3 linked regions of the Homo sapiens genome follow. The protein of the gene in region 2 interacts with the protein of the main gene of each other region in a pairwise test. Each region holds a gene or a part of one and is shown on either strand. Other genes may lie near its edges.

The links. Proteins that work in one complex are often made in the same cells at the same time.
Region 1: the proteins of LASP1 (region 2) and CAMK2A interact in binary tests that used the Homo sapiens proteins (3 or more experiments, as listed by UniProt).
Region 3: the proteins of LASP1 (region 2) and POU1F1 interact in binary tests that used the Homo sapiens proteins (3 or more experiments, as listed by UniProt).

The regions. Positions count from the first base shown.
Region 1 is NC_000005.10:150,218,960-150,223,773, forward strand, and holds the end of CAMK2A (calcium/calmodulin-dependent protein kinase type II subunit alpha), read right to left. Parts: intron 4,259-4,814; coding exon 4,030-4,258; coding exon of another isoform or gene 4,026-4,029; exon of another isoform or gene 4,001-4,025; intron 3,755-4,000; coding exon 3,751-3,754; 3' UTR 532-3,750; downstream 1-531. UniProt on the Homo sapiens protein: Calcium/calmodulin-dependent protein kinase that functions autonomously after Ca(2+)/calmodulin-binding and autophosphorylation, and is involved in various processes, such as synaptic plasticity, neurotransmitter release and long-term potentiation.
Region 2 is NC_000017.11:38,915,052-38,922,082, reverse strand, and holds the end of LASP1 (LIM and SH3 domain protein 1), read right to left. Parts: coding exon 6,937-7,031; intron 3,479-6,936; coding exon 3,305-3,478; 3' UTR 313-3,304; downstream 1-312. UniProt on the Homo sapiens protein: Plays an important role in the regulation of dynamic actin-based, cytoskeletal activities.
Region 3 is NC_000003.12:87,266,554-87,273,584, reverse strand, and holds part of POU1F1 (pituitary-specific positive transcription factor 1), read left to right. Parts: intron 1-88; coding exon of another isoform or gene 89-166; coding exon 167-238; intron 239-7,031. UniProt on the Homo sapiens protein: Transcription factor involved in the specification of the lactotrope, somatotrope, and thyrotrope phenotypes in the developing anterior pituitary. Specifically binds to the consensus sequence 5'-TAAAT-3'. Activates growth hormone and prolactin genes.

The DNA.
Region 1 (4,814 bases), on a different chromosome or scaffold from region 2:
GCAGCTCGGGCTCCAAGGACCAAAGTGTCCCAGGCACTAGGTCCAGACATATGTTTATGGGTAAAGAGACCCTTCCTCCCCTTCCCCATTCTTTAAAGCACTCTCTGGCATGGTGAGTCCTGAGCACTCATCTGTGAGGCTGGGCTGAGGGAAGAGAATGGGTGGGGGACTTGTGGAATAACCTCCACATTGTACAGGGAAACTGAGGCCCAGAGGAGAAGAACCTTGCCCCAGGGCCCAAGAGAGGCTTTAGCTCTTGGCTGCTCAGGCAACCCATAGCCACCCCTTTGCTCTTGTTGAGGGTACCCCCATGTGCCTGGGAGAAAGCTGACCCCATCCCTGGCTCTACAGGTGGGGCATGTGGTCCAGGCATAATCCCACAGTGACTGGCTCAGCCTTGAGCATGTGACCACAGTTGGTCCAATCAGAATGAAGACCAGGACTTTTATTTTGCCATGGGGCAGATCTGGAACTGGAAACTAACAAAAACCTCCCAGCTCAGGGGCTTGACCAAGACAGGGACACACAGAGTGCACAGAAGTTTGTAGCTATTTATTGCACTGAAAACACCAAGAATAAAACAAACGCCCCTTCTTCCCATCCCACCCGCCCCCCCCAATAGCAGAAAGTTTGAGCAGTGTTCATTCAAGTTCACAGCCACATATTTTTAAAAAAGAAAAGAAAAAAAAAAAGAACTAAAACAAAACCCCAAACAAATAGTAACAAAGAAACCAGCACGGGGAGTCTGGCAAACTCATCCCCCAAAAGGGTCTCCCTTTGAAGGGAGACAGGAGGCCTTGGGTCAGGATTCGCACCATGGTGGGCACAAACCCAGGAGAACACTTTCCTGTAAACGTGTTTTCATGCTGGAGCCAAGGTTTTGACTTGGGTTTGGATTTTTATTTATTTATTTATTATTATTATTATTATTATTTTGCATCTAAAGGATGTTTTGGAGGAGCACAGAGTTTGTCTGGTGAGGGTAGGCTCTGGGCAGATTTTTCTGTGAGTCTCCCCTGCCTGCCACATCAGGATCATCCCTGGTGCCCTGTGGTGGCACCAGGTGGCTGCCCACCCACAGGCGTGGCCTTCACAGTGGGGGCCATCTCAGCCTGGGGTAGCGATCTGCCTCCACTTCTCTGGCACTTGGAGAGTGACACAGTGGACAGGAGGTGTGTCAGCCAATGAAAGGCAGGACCTCAGGCTCCTCCAGCTCAGTTTCCTCTGGCAGGGAAACCAAGCTCCAAAGAGGGAAAGGAACTTGCCCAAGGTCACACAGCAAGTCTGGTCAGAGCTGGGAATTGAAGCCTACTCACCCCAAATCACTGCTCTTTCCCCTGCAGTCCACTGCTGAAAAGCAGTTGACAGGCACCGACGAGGGGAATCAGGGGCAGGTGGGGGAGGGGATGGAGCCTGACCAGGTCTAGAAGTAAACAGGAGTCCAGCCAGTGACTATCCCTGCCAGTTCCTGCAGGTAAATTAGGCTTCACATAGCCAGACGTTTGCTCCTTCATCGGCTGGATGGGAACAAAGAACCCTTTTAACCAATGAGGGAACTGAGGCTGAAGAAGAGCTCAGACCTTGCTCGGTAATTACAGCAGCCCCTGGTGAAGGCCACACCCTCACCCTTGACTGGGGATGGCTGTAGGGAACTGGCAGCTCAAAAGGGGACAGGTGGTTTTGCCCCTGGGATAATGGGATCACTGGGCCTTACTGGGAAGCCCTCTGGGCCTGGGGCAGGCCAAGAGCCTGCCCCTGGGCCTGGGCAGCAAGGTCTCTGCCAAGGACAGAGGCCAGTGATGGACCAGCTTGGAAACCAGGAGGCCTGGGCAGCATCTCTCCTGGCCTGCAGACCTGGCGTTGCCTGTCTCACCTGGGCCTGGGCAGCAGGACTTGAGAAAAGAACCCAGCAGACAGCTGGTGATTGGGGAGAGCTCAGAAAATCTCGGATCAAACATCCTCACCAGTTCTGCTCCAACCAACACCCAGGAGGGTCGAGGGTACCGGAGCCTCCTCCAATCCCTGGGGACGTGGCTCTTCCTCCCCTAAAATCCTCCAGAGGGGACAGTATCTCATGCTGGCAAAACACGGCCACACAGAGGCCAAAAGCACAGAGAGGCAGCAACATAATTCCGAGTCGGACACTGAGAATACAACCTCTATTTTTTTTTTTAGTCCAAAACATGTAGATTGGTTTTGTTGAGTGTTTTCTTCTTTTTGTTTGTTTTCAACATACTTACTGCGTATAAAGTCATGCAAAGAAAACAGTGCAGACAGTAGATCCTAGTGGATGTGCCAAGGTATTCCACTCAGAGTCAATCCCAGGGAAAGAGGGAAAGAGGAAAAGAAAGAGAGAATGCGAACCCGAGGCTGCAGGATGAGGCATGAAGAGTAGAAATTCCCAGTGCTTTGCTGTGGTCATCAGACGCCAAGGGGAGAGAGGCAATGAAGACACACGCTCACGGGCCCCCCAGAGGTGGGTGGGGGGTGCTGGGGGCGGCACACAGATATGGTGAGATGAAATCCTGGGAAGTTCGGTAGAGAAGACCCCAGTTTGCGAGGGAAGCAAAGAAAAGTCCAGGTATTTCCATCCTGACAGCCTCCCTCCTCCTCTCTGCCCTGACTTGCTGTTCCTGAGTCAGTGCTGGCATCTGATGCTTCCACAGTCCCAAAAGGAACGCCTGTGTCAGCTCACCTTGGGACCGAAATGGCAGAGAGGCCCTTCTCCCCGGAGCTGAGTCCACCTTGGCCCCAATAACCACAGGTGACAAGGTCCACCTCAGAGATGACAAAAAAAAAAAAAAAAACTAGAACAGAAAAAAACTACCCCTCACCCCTCTTCCTACACCCCTTCCAACCTGACCCTTCTCACAATAATCTGAGAAGTCTAGTTATTACATAAATATCCATTAACGCGAAATCCATTTACGAAATACACAGAAATTTGGCTATAAAAAGGCATGCGGTCCAAGTAGAAGTGATACCTAAACGTTGCTTTCTTTTGCCCCCCAAAAACAATTAGATTCCCTCTCTGAGATACGACAAAGCTGGAATTCTCCAGGGATGACGGGGGTGGGGTGGGCAGGTTAATGTTGGAGGTGGACTTCACCAGAAGGAAGCAGAAAGCAAGTAGGGGCACCTGAGAGGGCCACATCCCCCACACCGAGGGAAGGGTCAGACCACCCTGAGGTCAGCACAGGAGGAAGAAGACTTAGGGGAGCACTTTGAGGCAGGAGGCTCCTGGCGTATGCTCTTCTCCCCACTCCTTCAGTGCGGTTGGCTTAGGGGGAAGGGAGTGTCATCTGCCCTTCCCCGGGGACACTGGAAGAGGAGAGGTCTGGGAGAGGGACGGACGGATGCTGCCTTCCTCATCATGCCACCCCTCCTTCTCCCCAGCCCCTGGTGGGCACCAGCCCGGGCATTCTAGCCTACAGCCCAAGACAGATCAGGCGGACAGCAGCTGAGGCTGGGGAGAGGGGGCCAGTGCTGTGGACACCCATGCCTGAGGAAGCCCCAGCCTGGCAGGGGAGAGGGTGGGGGTGAGAGGTGGGGAGATGTGGCCGTTCGCTCTGAAGTTGCGATGACTTTTGTGAACAAGCAGGTTTTCTTGATGCAGGTACAGAAGTGACGGTGGTGGGGTGATGACATGGGAGAATTCCAGCAAAATCCACCTGGGAGAACCAGCAGCTCCACTCCACGGACAGAGTGGATCTCTGCGGCACAGCAACGCAGCGACCCCAGCCTGGTCCCTCAGCTGTAAGACACACACGGGGTGCTTCTCAGGGCATGGTGTTTCCTGCTTGGGCAACCCACCCACCCTGCCGCTTTAGATGGAGTCCATGCGGTCCCTGGTGGCTCCTGCCCAGCTCTTCCCCCAGACCTGCAGGCCTGGCCCCCTTCTTGGGGTCTCCCCACCCCACTCTGCAGCCTTTCAGAGCTGAAGGCAGCAGCTTCCCCGACGTAACCCCCTCCAGGGCAACACTCCCATCCTTTACATTACCCTGGGAGGCAGGAAGGAGGGATTCTTACTGGGGCAGGACGGAGGGCGCCCCAGATCTGTGGAAGTGGACGATCTGCCATTTGCCATCCCGGCGGTGCCAGACACGGGTCTCCTCCGACTGGGCGGTGCGTGGGATGCCGCCAGCGTCCAGGTACTGCGTGATGCGGATGTAGGCGATGCAGGCTGACTCGTCGCCCATCAGGTGGATGTGGGGATTCAGGATGGTGGTGTGCACGGGCTTGCTGTTCCGGGACCACACTGGAGGAGGGGATGGGAGGGGCAGAGGAGATGCAACCGGGGGCCTCCTGTCTCACTTTCTTCACTTTCTCCACTCCCAGCAGCCCTCTCAATGGAGGCGCCCTGCCTGACTCATTTGCAGGGAAGGGGCCTGTGTGGCAGGACTCAGCTACCTGGGATCAAGGTAGAACTTCTAGATGATGGGGACATCACATCCTAGTTTAGATACAGTGGAGTTCAGACATGCAGAATTCATCAAACATGAGAAAATGGAATGTTTGAATCATGACCGTTAGCCACATGGAATAAGCCTAGAGGATCATAGAACCAGAAGAGCTGTGAGCACAGTCTCAAATCCGGATCCCCCCAGGTACCAGGCAGGCACATAAACAACGGGGGCTGAGCTGGGTATAAGATGCTAAATGACAACTGACCCTTTGCCTCTGGGTCAGGGAGGCGATAGGGAGTGATGGGGACTGTGGCGAATAGAATGTCTTGTCCCACCTAAAGAGGGCATCCTGCACACAGCTTCCCTGGTGGTTGCCATGTGAGTGAGACCAGTGTTGACGTGCCTCGT
Region 2 (7,031 bases):
TGAGCGGGTGGAAAGCCAGAAGTAGGTTGGTGGGGAGTTCTCAGCAAGGAGGAAGTAGGGGCCAAGGGCCTGACAGACAGCAGCAAACTCCCCCTTGGCATCCAGACAAGTCATTCTCTCCCCGAGGGGCAGCAGAGGTCCCAGGAGGGCCACAGGCCAGTGCCCCCAAGCAGACAGGACACACACACACACACACACACAGTGGCACCTTACAGCTAGACACACACACACACAGCAGCACCTTACAGCTAGAGACACACACCCACACACAGACACACACAACAGCAGCTCAGAGCCAGAGAGGAAACCAAGTCCGCAGGTAAAAATTATACTTTTATTTGAGTCACCAGGAGAAAGATTCACTTGTGGTTCAAGTCAAATGTTCAGAATCATAACAGGCCAGAAAGGTTTGATCCCGAGCACAAGCCCACGAGGGAGGGGACCAAAACAGACCAAAATGAGACAACAACCCCATATAAAAAGATGAACTGGCGGCTTCACACACTCACACACATACACATACACACGGATGAAATGTTTGGACAGAGGCAAATTTCACGTGGTCATTTCTGTTTCTTTTTAAATACAGGTTTGTAGGGTGGTATTTTGTTTTTTCCAGCTATAAAAAAAGGCCCAAAAGTGCATGTGTGAGGGGGGAAAGGCAGAAATTAAGCAATAAAGTCATTTTCCCTGGAGGGACATGAGAGGGAGAAAACAGGAGGCAGTGCTGGGAGAACGCACTTTCCTCACCACTGGGCTTCTTGTTATTCTTAGTATTGGTCCACAAAAGTTATATTCACATTCTAGCTTTGATGCCTCTTTCCTGGGATTAAATGAGCTGAAAGACCTCTGTGAACTGTAGAGAAGACCAGGGGCTCAGCCCAGCCCAGCCCAGCCCCTCAGGGCTCTGTGCTCTTCTAGGGATGGATGGTTTTGGTAAAGAACAGACGCCCAGCAGCCCCCGGTCACTCAGCACCAGTGTGACAGTCCCTCCTCTCTCTGGGGGTGTGTAAGAAAACGGCCCCTATTTTTAGGACAGGAAGAGTAGAGGGAGGGCCTGCAGCAAGATTCCATGACTGGCTTGCCTTATCTGGGAAGGAGAATTAAGCTGAGTGAAAACAGGCTGCTTCTTGCTGCTCCTCCCTTCCACTCACCACTCTCCCAAACTCAGGTCCTCTAAGGGGATGTGTCCCTGACCTTTGGTCCCCAAATCCACATTGTGCTTTGAGATCAAGAGGAAACAGAATGCACCAGCGCCACCCAAGACTCCCAAGAGATTCTCTGCCTCCCCGAGCCCCCAAATCGCCCAATATAAGATATTCCACTTGCCTCCACCTAGGCTGGGGCCAGAAAGGAAAAGGGATGGGTCAGGCAGGGCCTCCCCACCCACAGTCTTTTCCTCAACCTCTCATTCGGGGCAAACATCCCCAAATCAATTAACAAGCAGTTGACAAAAACACCCATGATGACTGATTGTTGAACAGGCCAATACCTTCAGGTCCTGCCCCTCACCTGTGGGTACAAGTGTGCCAAGGGACAAGAGGCCAATGGCAGGGCCTGGTTGGGCTCAGGATGAAAATGGGATGGGGACTCCCAGAGGGTGGCAAGAAAACCAGAGATGAATCAAGTGAGGCCAGGGTTGTCACAGCCACCCATGAGCAGAGAGCAGGAACTGGATATAGCACCGTCTTTCCCTCCCCATCCCCGAGGCTGTGCTTCCAGTTTTGCAGCCCTGGGACCCTCTTTCTTGCTTCAAGGGAGCTTTATGTAAGTGAGGGGGAGGTCTAGGGGAAGAGCCCCCGAGGGAGACACCCACAGGGTGACACTTCTGCCACCCTATTCTGTAGCCCCAGACAGAGATGGGGAAACATATGCCTGGAGTGACAGAGCCTTCCTCCACCGCTTAGCCCCAGCAGGCTGCAGACCCTATGGCAGCCCCAACTCCACACCAACCTCTTACCTTCCACCCTGCACACTGCAAAGGGCAGATTGGTGGGCTTCCTCCACTCAGAGATGGGGGGAAGGAGGAATTTCATTCCAAAGAAAACCTAAGGAACTTCTCTGCCCCAGGAGCCCTCCCCTCTCACTGTGGGTTCTGAGGAAACTCTCAGGGGAAGACAGCTCTTCATACCCTCACATAACCCCACCCACACACAGGCCCAGAGACACCTACAGACACACCCCCGCCCCATCTCTCACACTCACACTCACACACTTGCGTGTCAGACACCTGCAGACATACATGCTCCTGCCTCCGCACACCAGGTCTTGGAGATTTAGTGGTCCCTGCTGACTTTGTGCAGCTCCAAGTCCACTTGGCATTGGGCTGGGGAGGGGAGGTCATGGAAGGCTCTGAGACATCTTCCCATGAGGAGCAGGGAGGAGCGGCCACCTAACCCAGATCCTGGGGGCTGAGGGAGGCTGAAGACCAAAAGGTCCTGAGGCACCCTTGCCCTACACTTCGGGACCATGGCTTCCAGCCTAGGAGGCAGGCAAGGGTCCCTGGAGACTGGGGGTGGGCGTGGGGAAAGGGGCTGCGGAAGAGAACTCCTTGTTCCCCTCCTTCCGGTAGCTGTCCCTAAAATTAAGAAAGGCAAGAACCTGACCCAAGCTGTGCTTCCTCGGGAGCTCTTTGCCCGCTGCAGGTCTGCGTGGGCAGGAGGGCAAAATCACAGTGTGCGAAGGAACGCGCGGGGAGGGGATGAATTCGCCCCACAGCAGGAACCCCATTCTCCTGTTGTTGCCCCTGAGGAGGGAGGTAGGGAGAGAGACCCCAGGTGGGCAGAGCCCCCTCTTTGAGAAAGAGAGGTAGAGCCCATCCCACTGGTCCCTACACAGCGGCAGAGTCCCCATCGCCATCCCAGGAACCAAGAAGTGGATCCCACTCTGGGGAATGTAGGGAGCCCCTGACCTGGGGTCCTGGCAGTCAGGCTCACCCCAGCCCTGGAATGTGTGGGTATGTGAGGAGCTGGGCAGGAGGATGTGAGGGGAGAGAACAGAGGGGCAGGTGAGGCCCACAGGCCAACAGGTCTCCCATTCCAGCCCTGCCTCCCCCAGAGAGGCCCATGCCCGTTCCATCCAGAGAGAAAACCAAGAAGTCGATCAAGGGGGAAGCCTGCCAGAGGAGGGAGCCCGCAGAAGTGGCAGAAGAAGGCTTCAGTTGGCAAAAGAAGCTGGAAGAGGGGTAGGAATCACAAGCTGTCGCAGGTTTTAAAAAACAGAGACACTGAAGAATGGACGGGTCACGCCCAGGACGGATGCGATGCCGTGGAATGTGCTGAAGACAGATGGGGGCGCTGCGGGTTCAGATGGCCTCCACGTAGTTGGCCGGCAGCATCCCCGTGTCGCCGGTGCGCTCCACCGTCCCGTACATCCAGCCGTCGTCGATCTGCTGCACGTTGACGATGGTGTCCCCGTCCTGGAAGGAGACCTCGTCCTCGTCGGCGGCGCTGTAGTCATACACCGCGCGGTACCGCTTCTGTGGGGGAAGTGTGGTCAGCCTAGGGCCCTGCATGCCGGCTCACCTGGGTCTGAGCATTTTTTTCTAACTCTCCACGACCCTGGAGCAGAGCCTGGGGGAGCAGTGAACTCAGAAATGGAGCACCAGGCTCTGCTGCAAAGATTCTTAACCTCTGTGTCTTGCTTTCTGAGAGCAATCGATCTTTTACAACCTTTGGCAGCTACTAAGGGCCAGAGGCAGAGCAGGGACCGGGTCACATCAGCTCTGCCCCACCTCCCTGAACAGGACTGCAGTAAGGTCCACCAGCCATGATGACAGAGTAATGTCTAAAAATACGACATGCAGGCCAGGTGCAGTGGCTCACGCCTGTAATCCCAGCACTGTGGGAGGCCAAGGCAGGAGAACTGCTTGAGCCCAGAAGTTTGAAATCAGCCTGGGAAACACAGTAAGACCCCCCAACTCCCTCTTTTTTTTTTTTTTTTTGAGATGGAGTCTTGCTTTGTCACCCAAGCTGGAGTGCAATGGTGTGATCTTGGCTCACTGCAACATCCGCCTCCCGGGTTCAAGCGATTCTCCTGCCTCAGCCTCCCAAGTAGCTGGGACTATAAGCGTGTACCACCATGCCCGGCTAATTTTTGTACTTTTTTGTAGAGACAGGGTTTCATCATGTTGGCTACGATGGTCTCAAACTCCTGGTCTCAAGTGATCCGCTCGCCTCGGCCTCCCAAAGTACTAGCGTGAGCCCATCTCAACAAAAAATAAAAAATTAGTTAGGCTTAGTGGTACATGCCTGTAGTCTCAGCTACTCAGGAGGCTGAGGTGGGAGGATGGCTTCAACCCAGGAGGTTAAGGCTGCAGTGAGCTAGCTGTGATTGCACCACTGCTGCACTCCAGCCTGGGCAGCAGAGCAAGACCCTGTCTCAAAAAAGAAAAAAAAAACAGAAAAAACATGCCCTGTATGCTATTATTTGTATGATTATAAGCACCAGTAGTTTCTTTTAGAAGCCATGATGAGTCCTGTCCAAGTTCAGGACAAAGATCTTTCCTTGGGAGAAAAATCTTCAGAGGACAGAAGACGAGTCTATCAGGTTCCACCTTCCAAGCCTCAGCCAAAATCTGCCGCTTAAGCCCTAGATCTAGGTAATGTTCAGTAAGGCACACAAAAACCTACAGCGCCACCTACTACCAGGATGGAGTTTAAAAAAAGAAAGAGGAAAAAAAAAAGAAAAATAAATCCTATAGCTATAGACAACATTCTACCTCCCCTGACCTTCACTGCCCTTGACTGGTCTCTGAGGCTCCACAGGACAGTTTGAAACCAACAGGTCTATGGGATAAGAAGTCACACCTCCCATGAAGTAACCTCAGTCTCTCTCATCACCAATTCTGCCTCTATCTTGGGCTGAGCCACTCCCATCCATGCCTATATCCTGCAACAGCCTCCTGACGGTCTCCCTGCTTCTACCCTCAAACCACTGCCTCTTCTCAACACAGCTGCCAGGGTGGTCTTCCAAAAACCTATGTCGCTCTGCACAGATCACAGGTCACAGAGGCCTTCCTGGGGCCCACAAGTCCCTGCATAATCGGACCTCCCACCCTCTCCCACTCTAGTCAATTCGGGCTTCCTGCTGCTCCCTGAACTTTCCTAGAATATTCCTGCCTCAGAGCCTTTGCACTTCCTGTCCTCGTTGCACGGCTCACTCCTTCCTTTATTGAGGACTTTGCTCAAATGTCACGTCTTTTTTTTCTTTTTTTTTTTCTAGCTGGAGTTTTGCTCTTGCTGCCCAGGCTGGAGTGCAAATGGCGTGATCTCGGCTCACTGCAACCTCCACCTCCCAGGTTCAAGCAATTCTCCTGCCTCAGCCTCCCGAGTAGCTGGGATTATGAACATGCACCACCATGCCGAGCTAATTTTATATTTTTAGTAGAGACAGGGTTTCACCATGTTGGCCAGGCTGGTTTCGAACTCCTGACCTCAGGTGATCTGCCCACTTTGGCCTCCCAAAGTGCTGGGATTACAGGTGTGAGCCATCGCACCCGGCCAAATGTCTTTTTTCTTTGGAGATATTGCTCTGTCACCCAGGCTGGAGTGCAATAGTGCAATCTTGGCTCACTGCAACCTCTGCCTCTCGGGTTCAAGCAATTCTACTGCCTCAGCCTCCCGAGTAGCTGGGATTACAGGTTACAGGCATACACCACCACACCTGGCTAATTTTTGTATTTTTGGTAGACAGGGGGTTTCACCATGTTGGCCAGGCTGATCTCGAACTCCTGACCTCAAGTGACCTGCCCGCCTTGGCCTCCCAAAGTGCTGGGATTACAGGCGTGAGCCACCACCCCCGGCCAAATGTCTTAATCCAGCTGCTTTCTATCCATCCCTCACCCTGCTGTCTTTCTCTTCACAGCGTGTCACCGCTGACCTTATGTTATACACCTATTTTCTTATTGTTTTCTTGTTTGTCCCCCTGACTGGAATGTAAGCCCCCAGAGGGCAGAGAGGTGGCTTTATATTCAGAGATGGACCCTACACATCCAGGACAGACCCATTGAGGAGGGAGGGACTGGCTGGGCTGCCTGGAACCTTATACTTCAGACTAACTCTTGCGCCCACAGTGCCCTGGGCAGTCCTAACATCCCTTTGTTTGTGTGCCCAGAGCATCAGACTCCAGCCAGCCATTATCTCAGGCGATTTTATCTCTCTAAGTATCTGTTCTGCTCCTACGTGAGCTACTTTGAATTCCCAGGCACCCAGCCTGGAGGCGCTGAGCCTGCCAGGAGCTTGGTAAGGGTGGCTCAGCGGCACCCATGGGTGGAGTGAGTGGCAGGACTTACAGAGCCGGGACTTCAGCTCTGAGGGCTCAGGAAGCCTGATCTCACCCCATTCCTGCTGGGCTTATTCACTTGCTCTAGGCCTGGCTCAGAGTAGGTGAACCAGACGGACGCTGCCAGGGTCCCCAGCCCAGCAGGGGACACAGAGAAGGTGACCAACACGAAGAGCTCTTTTTAGTTGGAAAAAGTGCTCTGAAGGCAGCCAGCGGAGTCGAGTGATGCAAAGCATCAGGGTGATGCGCTTTACACGACATGGCTGGGGAGGCCCCTCAGAGGCAGGGGCAGCCTGAGAGCTGAAGGATGTGGGGGCCATCCTCATGAAGCGAGGAGAGCAGCGCCCAGTGCTGGAAGGCCCCATGCAGAAAGTTGCCTTGTGTGTTCCCAGGTAGCTGGGGTAAGGAAACCCCACCCAAAGCAGGGTGAGCAACCTGCCCATGGTACACCAGGGCTGGAACGCAGGGCCCCAGTCCCAGCCAGCCTCTGCCCACTACGCCAACCAATTTCCTCTCTGCTCACAAGGCTGAGATCCTTATCATCACACACAACAGAGGGTGGGTGCAAAGGTCAGGAGAATCCATGAGCTGTGTCCAAGCCTTCCCGAAGGACCCCCTGCCTCTGGCCTCTCCCCTCCGGCCAGGGTTACTCACCCCGCCACCACCTGGGGCGCTGCGCTGTATGGAGACTGGGGCTGCAGGCTCCTTGTAGCCACCATAGGACTGGGCCACCGGCTGCTGCTGGGGCT
Region 3 (7,031 bases), on a different chromosome or scaffold from region 2:
TATTGGCATGTAACTTTAAGAACCACATAAATGTGTATTTTTGAAATAAAACGAATGTGTCTTGAATCCTTATACATTTTCTTACCAGTCCCATCTATTTTGTCTTTGATCCAAACTCCTAAATGTTTGTGCACACATTTCTCGGTGACAACGTTGGGAAACACAGCAACAGGACTTCATTATTCTGTTCCTTCCTGTCATTATGGAAACCAGCCATCAACCTATGGAGTGATGGCAGGTAAGAAAAGTTGTCTTTTACATGTTATTGAATTTGGGGACACTTAGATGGATTTTCTGGGCCTGAAAGAATTGTGATCAGAGTGTGACATGAAATTTGATTTCTTAACTTTGAAAATTACTGTTAAAAATCACCACTTCTTGTTTCCTGCTCTGTGACACCCACAGAGACCATAGGGGTTATACCTAATTTCCCTACTTACGTATCTCTGAACTGCTGTGCTTCTTGAGTTTGCTTTGTATGGTTTTTATTGAAATTCACTATCGTCAAACTGTTAGTTGTAACATGATGCTATTGGTAGGCTTACCTTCACTAAAAATATAGTAGCTACTAGACACGTGTGGCTATTTAAATTTAAATGTAAACTAGGTAAAATAAAACAAGATTTCAAATTCAGTTTCTCAGTTGCACTTGCTACATTTCAAGTGCTCTATAACCACATGTGGCTAGCGACTCCCATATCAGACAGCACAGGTTTACAGAACACCCCCCCTCATCATTATATTTCTTCTGGACCTTTGGTCCATAAACATAAATAAGACATTGATTGAAGCTAAGAGTGATTGGTAGGGGCTTTAGTGATAGCTGTTTCAGGCTTTAGCAGCCCTTTCTGAATTGCTTCTGAGTGAGTCTTAAGTGAGATTGAAATCATTGAAGTTACATACTTTTCTCCTATAGGTAAGTGAAGTATGACTGTATCAATTATGGCTACCTGCTTATTGATCCTTCTATAAAGGCATTGAAGCACAGTTTTTGAGGAATGCGTAGATCTGGCTTATGAGATCTATTCATCAAAAATTCTTGTTTAATTTCATGGCATGGCCACATAAGATTTTAATTGTTTTTAAAAAGTACACAGTTTTATTATGCGCAGGATTTTCATTTGTTGGTTTATTTTTAAGATAGCTTTAGGAGATATACCTAACGCTAAATGACAAGTTAATGGGTGCAGCGCACCAGCATGGCGCATGTATACATATGTAACTAACCTGCACATTGTACACATGTACCCTAAAACTTAAAGTATAATAATAATAAAAGAAAAGAAAAGAAATTCTTTGATATTTTATCTTTATTACTACAGCAGGAAAAGAATTCTTATTGATGACAAACTGTGTGAGTAAATGTGTGTGTGCGTGTGCATGGTGTGTGTGTATGTGTGTGATACTGAGGGAAAAACTGTGGATAAAGGAATCACTTATTAGGGAAATCTTTTCTAATTGACTTGTGTTTTGTTATGATACAGATAAGCAGTAAAAAAAAAAAACCGCAGACAAATATTGATTTATTCCTATAATTTTCAAGTAAAATGGAGCAAATAGTTTAATTTTAATTAAATTGTTTAACCTTTGATATCTCAAAATTTGTCCATGTAAGACTAAATAGAACATTAAAACTTTAAAATAATAATCCAGAAAAATATGAGCTTCTCCTACATTCTATCAAGCAACATTCTGAATAAACCAGTATCCTAACATTTATGGTTAAATGAAGACTGGTGTTCTTAACAATGACCTGTAAATCCTGACGTCTTTTTTTAAAAATTAAGAATTAAAGCCATATTTTTTCTTCCTCTCTGAAAATTGATTATTTATGATCAACATGCTTAATTAGTATTCATGGTTAATGAGAATAGCCCTCCTCAATGATGAACTACTGTCATTATAAAATAGTAAAATAAATGCGTTTAGCTACTGGAGGTGCGGGTGGATTGCTTTCTGTGGCCTTTACAGCATTTTGATTATGAGACAGGAAATGACAAACACATGCCACTGTTTCCTGGAGGAAAGACCTTACAGTTCATTTAGAGGAACTCCCAGGAACCAAGGTACATTGTTAGTTTCTCTCTTAACCCAGCACAGAGGCAGTCCCTGCCAGTTGATTGAGGTTGGCACCAAGATTAAAACCAGTCACAGAGCAGGGGCCAATAATCTCTGGCCCAAATACCTTCAGATAATTTTTGCTACCAACTCCCACCCTGCCTAATCAGAGAGGGCCACCACTGGCCTCGGGAGTTTGCAGCTGGCCTCAGAATTCTAACACCCTTACTGCTTCCAGGACTGGAGCCAATATGCCAATGTTCACATTGAGAGTGTTGGCAGCTCATGTCTTTCTGATACAAGTTTCCTCCAGCATGAACTCAGCAAACCCTCTTCCACGAACCTCTTCCTCATTTCAATTAAAATGTAAAGACCCCTGGAAGAGCCTTTCAAAATGATTCAAAACCCTGTCTTAGTGACATCAAGAGCAGAAGACTTACACCAAGGTCTGGAGCTATCACTGTGGTCTTAAGATTAAATATATTCTGTGACTGAAAGAAAAACTCACCATCACAAGCACAAAGATATTTGAATATTTTTGAGAGGGATTGTTAAATCCCTCTCAAAAATTTTGTTAAAATGTGATATGCTTTAAATGTCAGAATGTCTATATTGGGACATAATTCAGTATTAGCATTTGCTTCATGAGAGATTAGATCTTAGAGAATCTGAACTCTCCTGACTTTATCCCCAGTAAAGCTGCATAAATTGAGTTACAAAATACAGCAATTCAGAAATAAGAGAGAAAAGGTAAATAAGAGACAAATGTATAAAGTACACAATAGAAACCTTATTATGTCATCTGAATTTTCTGAGAAGTCTTAAGTCATTAATCAAATCAGCCCCTTGCACACAATCCACAGAAGTGTCTTAACAACAACAACGACACGGTGTCACATACTCTATATAAAAGTGAAGCTACAGGAAGAACTATATTTCTAAAATATGTGAAATTACTTTATTTTCATATGGTTATTTCATTACTCATACTCTGATGCTTACATTTAGTTTGAGCATTTCATTAAATTAATAACTCACAGGAAAAGAAGAGCTATAACTAATATTTTGTCAGGTTGGTAGGTAGAATTTTAATGATCAGATGAATCCACTGTACGTAATAGTCCAGGTGCAGGCAAAATAAAGAGAATGACTAATTGGGAGTAATGAATTATCCATGCCATTAACTAATTACTAACATTGTTCAAGTGATTAACACCTCTGAGTTCCAATCTCTTCATATCTACGTTGTGGTGGGTACTACAACTCTACTGGGGTTGAGTAGTAGCAAATTTGTGTCAGCTCAAAATGATTTCTCTTTTGCCCTTCTCTTCACGTACTCTTGCAGCTAAATTCCTTCTGTCCTTTCACTCCTGAGAACTTAGAGAATTCAAATCAACACCTTACAGTACAAATAATAGAAAACCTAGAATTACAGATGCTGTTCAAAGTCTCTCCTAGATAAACACAAAACAAAACAAAGTATCAAAAAAAAAGTTCTCAAAACTCTGACTCTTGGGTTTCTGAGATTGTTTCTGTTCTCCAGTATCTGAAGCAGAGTACAATTCAGGAAACAAGCTCAATGGGGGTTCACCCTTTCTGCTGTCCTGTGGAAACAGCAAATCAACCTCACTGTAATAAATGTTAAACCCACCATCTTTACATGATGTAGTGGCCAAACCAAGAAGTAGTGTGAAAGTCCTTGCTTTAAAAGTTAATTTCAAGGGGAAAACAAAACAAAACAAAACAAACAAACTTGTTTAAGTCCCAAACTCTTGGGACTTAAACAAGATGATGAGCATCCAATTCTTTTTCATGAGAAGTGGATATTAAAAGAAAAGATTGTTATGGCTGAAAATATTCTTGCTGCCTGGGCTAATACAGAAGAAAACGGAAATCAGCCTGGCAACTGACAGGGAGAAATAGTCTAGTCTATTTTTGGAACCCATCTTTTCATTTTTTGAAATTTGAAATTTTTTTTTCTTAATTTACTTCTTTTGTTTAGTTCTTTGTTTTATTTGGCCCTAAATTGTTCTGGTTGTAACAACTCTAAGGAAACAAGTAATTCTGAAGATCTTTTGCTTCCACATCGTGAAAGGTCTTTTGGTAGCAGTAACATGATGTATTTTCACTTCCAGACTAGGGGTTGGCAACCCTTTTCTGTAAAGAACCAGACAGTAAATATCTCAACCTTTCTAGTTTTTGTTGCAACTATTCAACCTGTCATTGTAGTAGGAAAGCAGTCACAGCCTGTGTGTAAAGAAATAGGCATTTCAAATTAAACTTAATTTACAAACACAGGCAATAGGCCCCAGTTGTACACGGATAGGATTTACCAATGCACAAGAGTGAAAAGATCACAGTGGAAGTTTATAATTTCCTTTGAATTTTTATGCCTAAGCAACAGAGGGGAATATATGGAAATATTCAGATACATGTTCCTGTGCATGTTACAAGCACAGCAGGGTGGCGTATTTTACTATGTCCCTCTGCTTCCCCTGTTTGTTTTTTTAAGGCATCAAGCCAGTAACGTGAGATGATGTTGTCAGCTAACCACATGCTGCAAAGATCAATTTGCCCCATGCTATGGTACATTGAGTCAGCGCCTAGTAAGGCATCCCTATCTCTGACCCCCATTGCCTGCTTTAAAAGATTTACCTCTGTTCTTCTCTCTCCTCTGTCACACAGAAATGCATACATAGCAATTTAGAAAGGCTCTGGTGAATTAATCTTCAATGTGAAAATGTATTTGGAACTACAGTGTGCAAACACTTCTGAGCTATGTGTGTGTGTGCTGTCCAGGCCTCAAGATAATTTTTCTTTATCCATGTTTCAGAAAATGTTGATGAGACCTCTGTCACACATGACTCACAACATCTTTTATCTTATTCCTACTTTTTGCAGTAATCTGGGTTTTAAAAAGATTTGAAAAACATATTGCTATACATATCATCCCAATCACTCTCCACACTCCCCCAAATGCAGGCTCAGATGCTAGAAACAGAGGTTCGTTTGGCTGTTCTTTTAAATTGTTGTGATGAAATTCTGTGTGAAGTTAGTTCCAGGAAATCTGTGACCTTGCAGATAATTGTAGATACTTTCATGCAATGAAAAATGAAAGTGAACCAGGTGCAGTGGCTCACAACTGTAATCCCAGCACTTTAGGAGGCCGAGGCAGGCAGATCACCTGAGGTCAGGAGTCCGAGAATAGCCTGGCCAATGTGGTGAAACCCTGTCTCTAAATAAAAAATTATAAATAAAAAATAAATTAAAAAATATAAAAATTAGCCGGGTGTGGTGGCAGGCACCTGTAGTCCCAGCTACTAGGGAGGCTGAGGCAGGAGAATTGCTTGAAGCTAGGAGGCATAGGTTTCAGTGAGCCGAGAGCACTCCAGCCTAGGGAACAAGAGCGAGACGCTGTGTCAAAAAAAAAAAAAAAAAAAAAGGGAAAGGGAAAAAAATAAAAAATGTATCACACATCACATTTTCCTTCTTGTTCTGGATGCCAAACCTTGGAGCATGGTATTTTCTGTGTACTTTTCATGGATTCCATTCAAATTTGTTTTCTGCGTGTCCACTTTCCCAGAGTACTTACAATGTATAAACTACCTTTCAATTTTTGTGGCTGGGTTCTGTGGCTTATACCTATAATTCTAGCACTACAGGAAGCTGTGGCTGGAGGATTGCTTGAAGCCAGGAGTTTTGAGACCAGCCTGGGCAACATAGTGAGATCCCGTCTGTGCAAAAAATTTAAAAAAGTAGATGAGCATGGCGGTGCATGCCTGTAGATTCTACTTAGGATGCTGAGGTGGGAGGATGGCTTGAGGCCAGAAATTTGAGATTGCAATGAGCTAAGATTTTACCACTGCACTCCAGTCTAGGAGACAGAGTGTGACCCCATCTCTAAAAATAAAGAATAAATAAGCAAACAAACAAATAAACAATTTTACGGAAACAGGGATGACACACTTTATATATATTTTATTGTAATATTTTTGTGGAACAGTGTTTGTTTAATATAGCCAAAGGTGTTTAAATGCAGAGAAAACCTTTTAAAGAGAAGTTATTTAATTTGCCTGAGTATAGACTGCCTGGAGAATGAACCGGGCAATGATTTTGATGTGGCTTACTGCAATGCTTATTAGACTTTAGTTCTGGTTTAAACTGCAAAGTTAATTCGTTGGGCACTGGAGGCAAGTTATTTACTTTCTTTCTACTTAAATTTCCTCCATTGTAAATTATGGGGAAAAATATATATCTTTCCTGACTCATTTTTTGTATAAGGATAAAGATGATAACAAATGTGAAATTAACACGACACAAAGTGTTGCATAGAAGATTTGTAGCAGTACATAATTATGATCAGCAAGAGAAATTGAAAATAATAATAATAATTGATAACAAATTTAGACCTTTTAGTATGCGTAAGTAAAAAACACACAAATTTTTTATATAAAATAAACATAATTTGACATAGGTTAAATGAGTTATCTAAAGTGTCTTAAAATATGTTAAATGTACAAAATCTAACAGTAGCCTGGCTTTTCTTTGTACTCTTTCTCAGGGTATTTTATCATTAAATGTATTAAGTGATACCTGATGGACCTAAATAATCAAAGAAGTGAAGGTTTTATAAATATATGTGAGAATCAATTCTGAAAGCATAAGCACAAAACAAGTCTTCAGATAAATATGAGATTAAATAAATGATAACATAAATGTCATCAATTTTCTTTTACATCTATTAGTCCTTCTTTTAATTTAGCAGAAAATTAAAATTAATAAAAAGCTAAAAATAAACCCCACGGCAATAAATATTTTCAAGAAAAGCTATATAATAAAAGAAAAGTTGGTAAAATTGCTTTTAAAAATGTTCTCTTGTCTGATCAAGATGCCACACAATAAAGCATAAAATGGATAGTTAACTGACTTTTACAAAAGTAAACCTGGATAATTTTGGTTTGTAAAAGTAGCAG